Linked DNA regions of Homo sapiens: region 1 is linked to region 2. The links come from fine-mapping of genetic effects on gene expression. Tissue or cell type: lymphoblastoid cells. Region 2 holds a variant in brackets; the other region holds the start of a gene. All regions are shown on one strand. Distances are between the middles of the regions.

Region 1 (5,374 bases), 89 kb after region 2:
CTCATTTGCCGCTGGGACTAAAGATATGTACCATCACTTTCAGCTAATTTTTAAATTTTTGTTGAGATGAGGCTTCCTTATGTTGCTCAGGCTGCTCTCATGTTCCTGGACTCAAGTGATCCCCCTGCCTTGGCCTCCCAAAGTGCGGAGATTACAGGCATGAGCCACTGCACCTGTCTGAATGTCATTTTTTGAGTGAGGACAAAGTTGAGAGCCAAAACAGGTAAAAGAAGGTGCCATTTATTTGTAAACTTTGCACCCAGATTAACTTTATCATACTTTTTCATTTTCATGTAGTTTGATCCTTTTTGGATATTATTCAGCTTTTCTTTAATAAATTGTTAGGATCCAAAAATATACCACACCAGTTAACAAGAAAATCTTCACTTCAATCTTAACACTTGAAAAGAAAAATCTTGCAGACTTTGCTCCTATTTGGGGATAAGCAGGGGACTAGTGGATAGAAGAAGGTGCTTTCTCAAGTCAGTGACAGAGGTTGGGCCATGCCATCTTTTCAGAGCCAGTGCTGCCCTCTGAGGGCTTCAGCTCAAAGAGGGGAGGAAGGCAAATGAACAGAAAATGAGGCTACAGAGTGGTGGGTATGAATTTTCACGGAAGACTGGGACTGGGGAGAAAGCAACGAGCTGTGCCAGAAGGAGCCAGAAAGGTTTCAGAAAGGATGTTCTGTTGGGGATGCTATTCCAGGAGGAGGGACCAGCTGTCATCAAGTGTCTGCTGGGGGCCTTTGGTGTGAGCTACTGGGGACATGGGATGGGAAAGTGCCCCTACTCTAGACAAAGCCTAGAGGTGTCATCATCTGCAACTATTAAGTTGAAGCATATGAAAGAGCTGACATGTGACAACTTTGGCCCTTTTACAAAAACGGCAATTTTGTATGGTTCAACCTGATACCAATTCCAGATAAAATGGAAATGCCTCAAATTCTAACCTTTGTTCCGTATAACAACACGTGGAATCCCTGAGAGTTAATGGAATCCCTGGGGCATTTCTAAAATAGACCAATGCCTGGGCGAGATCCCTTAAATCCTGGTTTCTGGGAGTGGGGCCTTCTGCAGGGGGCCTAGCCTCCTGGTCTCCATTATTTCATGGGATCCCAGTTCCTGGTCTATCCATATTGAGGGGACGAGAAGCAGCCGGGATAACGGAGGAGGCAGGGGTTCTTGCAGTGGCTACTCCTCTCTAGGCCTCCTGGAGGGAGCTGATCATGAGAGATCCTCACTGTAAGGGGGATGCAGGCAGCCCAGGGGCCGTCTGAGCACCAAATGACATCATGTACTTGAAGCACCAGCACAAAGTTGTCTCCCTCATAGTGAATGAATGTAAGCAGTGGAATTCGACTCGCGGGTTTTAACCCCCATGGGCCAGCGTCCTTCCCTCCCAATTGTCCTGCTAGAAGAAAACGTTTCGCTCTCTCTCGGGTATCCAGCTAATCGTTAAGGCAAACAGCAGCGCCCCTTTTCCTTTCATCTCTTGCCCCATTTCTGCACCTACAGCCTCACACCTTCTTCCCGGGACACAGCACTGCCAGGAGCCCATCCTGGTTCAGTTCAGTACCCAGGAGGAATCCCTCGGGCCGACTCCCAGGACTTTGTTTCTTGGACTTCACCACCGCCGCCTCCCCAGCACAGCTCCCGCAGCCCGCACCCGCCCACAGGGTCTCCGCGACCCTAGAGCTTAGGGAAGAATTGCCGAGGGGCGGGGGGTCCCTCATGCGCATGGAAGGGACGTACGCCCCAGGCCTCCACCTTCCTCCTGACCCCGGGGATTCTTGGACGTCGATTCTCCGTCTCGTAGGGGCGAGGGCCCTGGGTTCGCAGTCAGACGCGGGCCCCTCTCAAATCTAGTGGCCTGGTTTTATTGAGTGGGGGAAGGCACATATTTTCCAAGATTAACTGCCCCGCAACAGGGAATTTCGCAGGATTTCAGTATTTTCGACTCCCCAGGTGACGCCAAGAGGGTGGGTTCCACTGTGCACGGTGGGGAAACTGAGGCTCGGAGGGGACAAGGAAGGTACTCGAGGTCACGCGGCTCCTCCGGCGGGCGGGAACGCAGGACGCGGAGTTGGGGCGCGGGCTGTGCGCGCCCAGGTTCGCGGCTCCCGGGGCTCGGCTGTCGCAGCGCGGTCGCCGCCGAGGACCACGGTCGGGGCGCGGGCGGGCTCCAGTGCGCAGGCGCGGCGGGCGGGAGGGGACGCGCTCCGGGCGCGCGCGCGGGGCAGCCGGCGCCCCAACTCCGCCCGCCCCGCGCCCCGCGCCCCGGCGCCTCGCCGCCCGCCGCCCGCCCGCCCCGGCGCCGCCGCCCGCGCCCCGGCGCCCCGGGCCGGCGAGGGGCGCGCCCGCGGCCGCGGCCGCTGCATGGCGCTGAGATGGCGGGGGCGCCGCGCGGCGGAGGCGGCGGCGGAGGCGGCGCGGGCGAGCCCGGGGGCGCCGAGCGGGCGGCCGGGACAAGCCGCCGGCGCGGGCTCCGGGCGTGCGACGAGGAGTTCGCTTGCCCAGAGCTGGAGGCGCTGTTCCGCGGCTACACGCTGCGGCTGGAGCAGGCGGCCACGCTGAAGGCGCTGGCCGTTCTCAGCCTGCTGGCGGGCGCGCTGGCGCTGGCCGAGCTGCTGGGCGCGCCGGGGCCCGCGCCCGGCCTGGCCAAGGGCTCACACCCGGTGCACTGCGTCCTCTTCCTGGCGCTGCTCGTGGTAACCAACGTCCGGTCCCTGCAGGTGCCCCAGCTGCAGCAGGTCGGCCAGCTGGCGCTGCTCTTCAGCCTCACCTTCGCGCTGCTCTGCTGTCCTTTCGCGCTGGGCGGCCCCGCCCGGGGTTCCGCCGGGGCCGCTGGGGGGCCAGCGACCGCCGAACAAGGGGTTTGGCAGCTCCTTTTGGTCACCTTCGTGTCCTATGCCTTGCTGCCCGTGCGCAGCCTGCTGGCCATAGGCTTTGGGCTCGTGGTGGCTGCGTCGCACTTGCTGGTCACAGCCACCTTGGTCCCCGCCAAGCGCCCACGTCTCTGGAGGACGGTAAGTGCAGCCGCGCACCCCTCATCTGGTCTCGGACACACTTGCTGGGACGATGCTGGGAATGCCCGGAGTCGGGCGCGCTTTTTCCTATGCGGCGGGTGGGGACACTGAGGCTCCGAGTGGGGGTGTGTTCAAGGTCACTCCTACGAGTTGGGGACGCAGTCGGGGCTGGCACCCTCCGGCCAGGGCTCTCTTCAGAGTTACAATCCACGAAGCGCCCCTGGCGTGAAGTGTGGAGAGGGGAGACAGGTGTGGAGAGAGAAAGGTTTGGCCAAGGTCAGGGAGCTGATGAGCGGCCAGACGGCGGCCAGAGGGGTCCGCCGGTCTTTTGCCGCACCCATCCCCACAGAGGGACTGAAAGTGGGCGAGGAGAGCAGACCCCCAGGGCAAGCTCCAAGGCCGGCTCTGCGCGCAGCGCTGGGCTCTTCCCCTGCGCACCTAGAGCGCGTGCTGGGCTCGCCTCCCAACCCTGCGGACCCGAGGGTGGTATATGGGTGGTGGGAAAGGACTTCGGCTCTTCCAGCCTTGCTGGCCACCCTTCTGTGGACATGCCTCCGGCCCAGAAAGAGTGGGGTTTGCCAAGGTCAAACACAGTCTAGTCCCTGCCGCTGCCACTCGGCGGTTGCCCTGACCCTGCCTTTTCTGCGCCCGAACTTTGTCACTGTCTTCCCAGTCGGGCGGGCGAGATGGTTGCAAGGACGGGGACGCTGTCTGCCTCCCGCGGACTCTTCCTGGGCCCTGGAGGAGCCTGCTCTTCCAACTGCCCGGAGGTGGACGTGGACCAGAGGTCTTTGCCCCACGGCGGGGCTTTGAGAGCTTCCCCTTGTGCCCATCTCCAACGGGCCGCAGGGATGGGGCTGGGGAGTTGGGGGGTGGGGAGATTTGGAAGACCCTGAGGAGGGTTTTGTTTCTGCCTCTAGCTGCAGTTTAGCAGGGGGATGGTATGACTCAAATGGAGTGGGGGAGCCCATCTCACGAAAGGAAGCAGTGGTGGGAGCAAACTGGGGAGAGGTAAGGGGTCGGAGGGGAAGCTGAATCCAGAGAGATTAGGGAAGAATAACTGGGGGGCGGTGGTAAGGAGTCCCACAGCCCGGCCCCGGGGGACCAGCACCCAAGGATCTAAGGAGGCATCCTTAGACTGTGATGCCAGGGGCAGCACACAGTCAGAGGAGCCATGAGATGCTCAACCTGGCACAGGGATAGACACATCACTGGACTTGTGTCTTAGGGTCAGAGAGAGACCACCATGTGCTCAACCCGTGGGCAGGGGCGGGAGGGAAGAAGGCAGGAGTACATGGAGAATTGTCAAAGAGGGCGTCGGAGGAAGAGAGGAAGAGAGGTAGAGGTGAAGGGCAGAGGCACAAAAGGATGGCTAAAGGCTGAGGAAAGGGGAAAGGAGCCAGAGGACTTCATGTCCTGGAGGGGAAGGAGGCTCTTCCACAGCCTCCTGTGGGCAGCACGTGGGCCTTGCCTTATCAGTCTCAGGGGGCATTCCTGTATCTCCTACTGCCTCCACCCCCCATCTGTCTGTGTTTAGCCTGGGCCTCATGCTGGCCCCCACAGCCAGACCCGCAACCGCAAGACGGCCTCCCCAATCTGACCAGATGCCAGGGCAGCTTGGGAATAGGGAGGGGCTGAGCTTGGTCCCTGGGCAGGCCCAGGGATCCCAACCACACTGCATTCTCTCTTATTACACCAGGGAGTCAGCTGGTGTAATAAAAGGCTGCGTTATTGTCTTTCTCTTTTAAAATAAAGACATTTCCTATATAGCCTCTAGTCATTTCTTTTAGAGAATTAAAGATTAAAAAAGAGAGAGGGGAGAGTCTATAAAGGAGTTTCTGGACACAGGGAACTCTGCCTCTCCCCCTGGGATAAGATGAGCCCCTGTGACTGTCACTGTAGTGGGGAAGGAAGCCCATCCTGGGAGCAAGGATTCTTAGGGAGCAGACATCTGGGTTTCCCTGCTAGCTGTGACTCCCTGGGCAATCCAAAGCCTTCCCTCACTGAGCCTCAGGTTTCTCACCTGTGTAAAGGGCAGAATGGCCCCCTGCAGGGTTGTAGTGAAGGTAAACACTTCCTATTGGAAAAGCACATATTGGCCTTTTTAGAATGTTCTATTCAAGTCCACGTGTCTATACAGGTGGTAGTGATACTGACAAACACATGGGGATCAATGCAGGGAGACTTACAGTGGGGGGAGCAGGGCAGATGATTCCCAGGGATTCTGCTTTCCAATTAGAGAATTCCAGGAGCCTGTGAAATCTGTCCATAATGAGCTCTGCAGTTTGGTGCTTGAGATGGTGAAGAAGACAGCACACGCATTTACACAGCATTGATGTTTCTGCTGCT
Region 2 (5,374 bases):
TTTCTAATGCCCTAATTAACCCAATTTTGGTAGGGGGATCCCTGTTGAGCTGGCTCCTGCTCTGTTTCTCCTTACTTAGTATTTGTGATGTTGGAAACATTTTGGGAGCAAATCTCAAGACTTTGCATTTATTTCAGTTAAATAGGATCCCTTTCCCAAGACTGTTAAGGTATCATTTTAGATCCGGGGCTGATATCCACCCTCCCTTGCCAATCCCCATGTCACCCCCAAACCAATCCAGCTACTATCATCTGCAAACTTGCTGAGCTATTTCAAGACCATCCCAAGAGAACAAGAAAATACAATTCACGTTTATTCACTTTGTGCAAAACAGGTTCAAAGATATGATTTTCCCTCAGCATTGTGAGAACTATGAGGTGCCCCTCAGGGCTGATTTGCCCCCAGGCATCACAGTGTATAAGTCAAGGTGACAGGATCAAGGGCGGGGTCCTCATCAATGGAATTAGTCTTAATTTGTCACATGAGAGTCATTCTGCAGTATCCCCAGAGAGTGACGGCTTAGACATGTGGCCTATTTGCAGAAGGCTCACCTGGAGCTAGTAGGAGAGCCGTGGATCGCCCCTCGGTCCTGAGAACTGCCCTACAGGGGGAGGCGCGGGAGTCACTGTGCTTCTGTGAGATAGTGATGAGCAAAGAAGCAGGAATAGCAAGGAAAACGGAAGGGATCTTCACCTGGGTGTAGACTACCACTCTGCTGAGAATCTGCTGCCATCTTTAGAGTGCCCGCCTAGATGCTGATTGTAGGTCAGATACTGAGGGTGACGTCACATAATTTTTCCTGCAATTGTACAACAGCAGCACCGCTTTATCTCCATAGTATAAGTGAGGAAAGGAAGGCACAGACATGCCCAGTAACATGTCCAAGTATCATAGCCAGAAGGGTGTGGAAGCCAGAATCACCTGGCTCTGCTTGTCCCAAACACCTGCTCTGAAGGCCACCTGTTTCATTGACCCCTACACCATCCAGAGCTGATTTGGTTATCAAGAGGAATGGCAGGAAAGAGGAAAAGGAGGCAGGAAGCACTATCTCTGATCACTCCATGCAAACTCACTTCTCAGAATCACTGCACAAGGAAAATAGGATTTCTGTCAGTTAAGCACTAAAGCACTGCAGCTGAAGGCCATTGCCTCACGCCACTACCAGTGGCTCAGTTCAGTCACCTCCTGAGGGAGCCGTGGCTCTCCCCACTGCCTGCTCACCCCTGCAGAGGATCGACGGGAAGCACTTCCTTTGCTGGATGTCTCGGGGCTCGTTTGCAGCCTGCTGAGAAATTTTAGTGTTCTTTTCTTCTTATTACAGCTACATTATTAGGCCTCGTAGTCCTGGTGCAAGCTGGGAGGAGTTCCCCTGATTATAGATTATAAAACAGCATTTTCCCTCTAACAGCTTGAATGGCTTTCACAAAAAGAATTAGGAAGTTTGTTATTTCACTTGATGTGCCAAAATATGCCCATTAAATTCAGCAAATTGATAGAAAAGATACCACACACACCGTCCTGCAGTCTGCATTTACAGCATCACAATATTTGTATTCTGAAGTGTTGCCTGGAACACATTCTCCATATTTGACTTTCCAGACCCGATTATGCAGTTTCATTCAGTTTTTATTTCTACTTTAGTATCAAAGCAGTCTAAGATTTTAAAATTGAAGAAAATATGTTTTCAAGTATGTTTTGAAATATCATTAGCTTTGAAGACTAAATATGCTTTTTAAAATAAAAAGGGTGTGCATTTTCCAGGACCCTAGCCACCCTGCAGAGTTTATCCTGAGCTCTTTAGGGTCTCCACTGTTTGGCCACTTATGTCACACCTTTTATCTTTATCCCTTACACAAGGACATACCATTTTTCCAGACGCTGGTGTTGCCCATGACCTGATGTTAGGCTCTGCAATATTTTCAGATATGAGTAAGAGAAGAGCAGCACTCGTGGCTCAAATAAACAAGAAGTCTGGGGCTTGGCGCAGCAGCTCAGTGGTGTCAGGGCAGTTCCCTTAGCAATCCCCTTAGCTTGTTTCTCACAAGCCACAGAGTAGCCCCTGCAGCTCTAGCCATCATATCACCTTCAAGGCAAGAACATAGCTCAGACCTCTGCCCAACTCTCAGTGCCCTCCAGACTCTGCCAAGTGGCTCTCACAGCGGTAAGGACCAGGAGAAGGCAGGTGCACCATTCAACTTTTGAAATATATGTATATACACAAACACACACATATATACACATATATATACGCACTATATATAGATACATATATACATATATCCACATACATACATACACACACATACATATATATGTGCATATATATGCATAAGTATGTAAAATATTTTGGAAACTCTTGAGTTTTAAATAGAGAAGAAAAAACTTCTGTGTTATGGACTGAATATTTACATCCTCTCAAAATTCATATGTTGAAGCCCTAATCCCTCAATGTGATGGCATTTGGAAGAAGAGATGGGGCCTTTGGAAGGTAATTAGGTCAAGAGAGTGGAGCCTCCATGATGGGATTAATTTGTGTTTTCATAAAAGAGACACCAGAGAACTCTCTCACCTTCTTTCCACTATGTGAGGACGGAATAAGTAGGCAGCTGTTAGGGCCGGGTGTGGTGGCTCATGCCTGTAATCCTAGCCCTTTGGGAGGCTGAGGCGGGTGGATCACTTGAGGTCAGGAGTTCGAGACCAGCCTGACCAACGTGGAGAAACCCCGTATCTACTAAAAACAACAAAAAAAAATACAAAATTAGCTGGGTGTGGTGGCGCATGCCTGTAATCCCAGCTATTCCAGAGGCTGAGGCAGGAGAATCGCTTGAACCCGGGAGGCAGAGACTGCGGTGAGCCAAGATGGTGTCATTGCACTCCAGCCTGGGCAACAAGAGTGAAACTCCGTCT[CA/C]AAAAAAAAAAAAAAAAAAAAAAGAAGGCAGCTGTTTGCCAGCCAGTAAGAGAGCCCTCAACAAGAACCAAATCAACCAGCACTTTGATCTTGGACTTCCCAGCCAGTAGACTGTGAGAAATTAAGTTGTATAAGCCACTCAGTCTATAGTATTTTTTGTTATAGCAGCCCAACCTGAGTAAGACACTCTGCATATACATCTCAGGGAACAGTCTGTCAAACTTTTTATTAATTTTTCCTAAATTGGAAACTTTAAGAATAATTTCCGCTCACAGTTTAGGAAATTGGTAAAACTCATTTGATTATCAGTCATGCTTAAGAACAGATTCAGGCTACTATTTTTTTTTTCTTAATATAAACGCCATGCTTGGCTCTAGAAAATGCAGTGTAAGGAGAGAGGTGAAATTGGTGAGTTCTGTCAGGGCAGGGCTGCTGGACTTAGATCATAAAAGTATTGATATTCATTTAAGTTCTTTCTAATTAGCTATGTATATATTCATTGATATAAAAGAAACATATTGCATGGATATATTTGTACTAAGAATTATTCATCATTTAGCTGAAGTAAATCATAAGAATCTAAGTTACATACCTCTCTTTTATTACATTTTCTTGATGATTTGGTTCTCCTTAGCCATTTCTTGTTTGTAGAACTTGTTTAAAAAATTCCTTGCAGTGATAGCTCATTTTCCGTTACTTTAGTCACTCTTCTGCCCACTGGCTATCATTAATGAGAACAACTGTGCAACATTAGCATTATGAGCTGGCACACTGAGCACACCCCGGCATAAAGTTAGCAACTCTGAAAACTGCCCTTGGGGTTTGATTTGTTGAGGTGCATAATACCACCTCTTTAGTACAGCTTGCTTTCTCATTCTTAGAGATTCCATTGTATCTGTCATTCATCAACTTTTGAAGATGTGGCCCACCACCAACAATAAAAAGGACAGTCAATTTTTATTCCCTTTAACATTACACATGATGTTTCTTGTTGTTCCCAGGTTGAGAGAGTATTAGTAACATTCATGTAAAAGAAAGAAATTTTTAAAGGGATGAAATCCATTTCAAAGATAGTCATGGCAAATGCCATAATAATTATCCACTTTGAGCCAGAATTTCCTTTTCTGCTCATAATTAATGTTGTCCCTTTGAAGAACAGCCATGATACTTAAAGGGATAAATATTTCTTTAATGGTTTCTTTAATGTATTCATAAGTTCCTTTAGGCAATAGAGTCCTTCAATAACACTGTTTGCTCTTCTCTCAATTTGCATAATCTTATTGCTAAGGGGATATTGAAAACTCTGAGCAAGGAATAAGTAGGTTTCACTCAGTAAATTATTTATAAAGTCAAGAAGAAATTTTAGTGCCTTTTCTTCAGAATTAGAGTATGATTTCAGTGCTTCAAATAAACTGAGGAGTCTCTCAACTGAATTTGTTAAAGAGAGAAAACAGTTTTTGAATGTGAGTGAATTGAGCACTACAGAATGCCCAGAAAATTACCAAAGCCCTTTAATTACTCAGTTCAAACAGTATTAATGCTGAAATTAGAGAACAATTTTGTGACAATTACTTTGATGTCAATAGAAAGAACATCAGCTGCTGTTTGAGCAGCATTATGCAGAATATGGGCAGGACAGCCAACCCTGCCACAGAATCATTTATTATGCCACTTTCAATAGACATTGTCTTCTGCACCTTTACACAAACATCCAGCAAAATGTGTATTTGTATCATTTCCATGAAAAGCAGTACTTTTTTTCATTAACCACAAAGTCAATAAGAGAATCACTGCGAAAATCTGCTAATATTATTGATGTCTCCTCTGAAAGATATCTTACTTGGGACAACCGTAGAAGCAAGTGTTTTTCAAGAGAAACATATTGCATGAGCAAAGGGAATTAATGTTTCTGTATTGTGATTACTTGGTTTTGCTTCTGGGTCTGTGCTGTAAAAAGATTAGGTAGTTGGAGCTTTGATAATCTCTGTGATAGTAAATGGAGTGGTTACGTATTTTATTATTGCAGGAGATTCTGTTTTGGCACTTATAAATTTTCTTGCAATGTTGGAATCAGAAAATACTTTTGGCAGCAGTATGTTAAGGCAGTCATTTGAGCTGAAAGACTGAAGGTGATATACAGTGTGGAAGTCATCACAACTTCTGCAATTATTTTGTCTTCTTCATTTGAATTCCTGTAAAGCAAAAAAAAAAAAAAGTTATTTTATCACTTTCTTCGGTACTAGTTGAGGAAATCACATGTCTCTTATGTTTAGCTGTTTGCCTGTGCTAGTTTATGGCTGACTTTCCACTCTTTCTATATTGAATGAACAATTGCATCCTGAACAAAGAGTTTTGTGGGGGCCAAGGCCCTTGGTACCTTGGAGGTTTGCTGAAAATCACTGACATGAAGTAGATTGATTAATAGGAGAAAAGTGTCAACAAAAAGGAGTCAAACTCTAAAATGTT

Direction of the effects. Positions count from the first base shown, and alleles are read on the strand shown. Sizes are in standard deviations (SD) of each study's normalised expression.
With allele C in place of CA in region 2, the expression in lymphoblastoid cells of the gene that starts at base 2,211 in region 1 is lower (moderate effect, 0.68 SD a copy in TwinsUK).

What was found. PIP is the estimated chance that this variant, and not a neighbour inherited with it, causes the effect. A credible set is the group of variants that fine-mapping cannot tell apart.
Region 1: ADCY1 starts here. The variant in region 2 is the best candidate, but not a certain one, in a credible set for the expression of ADCY1 in lymphoblastoid cells (TwinsUK, PIP 0.51).

Annotation. Positions count from the first base shown.
Region 1 is chr7:45,572,158-45,577,531 of GRCh38, forward strand. It overlaps ADCY1 (adenylate cyclase 1), which reads left to right and starts at 2,211. Exons shown (of 20, transcript NM_021116.4): 1 at 2,211-3,025. The coding sequence starts at 2,387. RefSeq lists an enhancer at 1,225-1,785 and a silencer at 2,597-2,696.
Region 2 is chr7:45,483,096-45,488,469 of GRCh38, forward strand. No RefSeq gene overlaps it. Among named protein-coding and RNA genes, the nearest start is that of ADCY1, 89 kb to the right of the region's middle. The variant CA/C (reference allele first, on the strand shown) is at 2,908.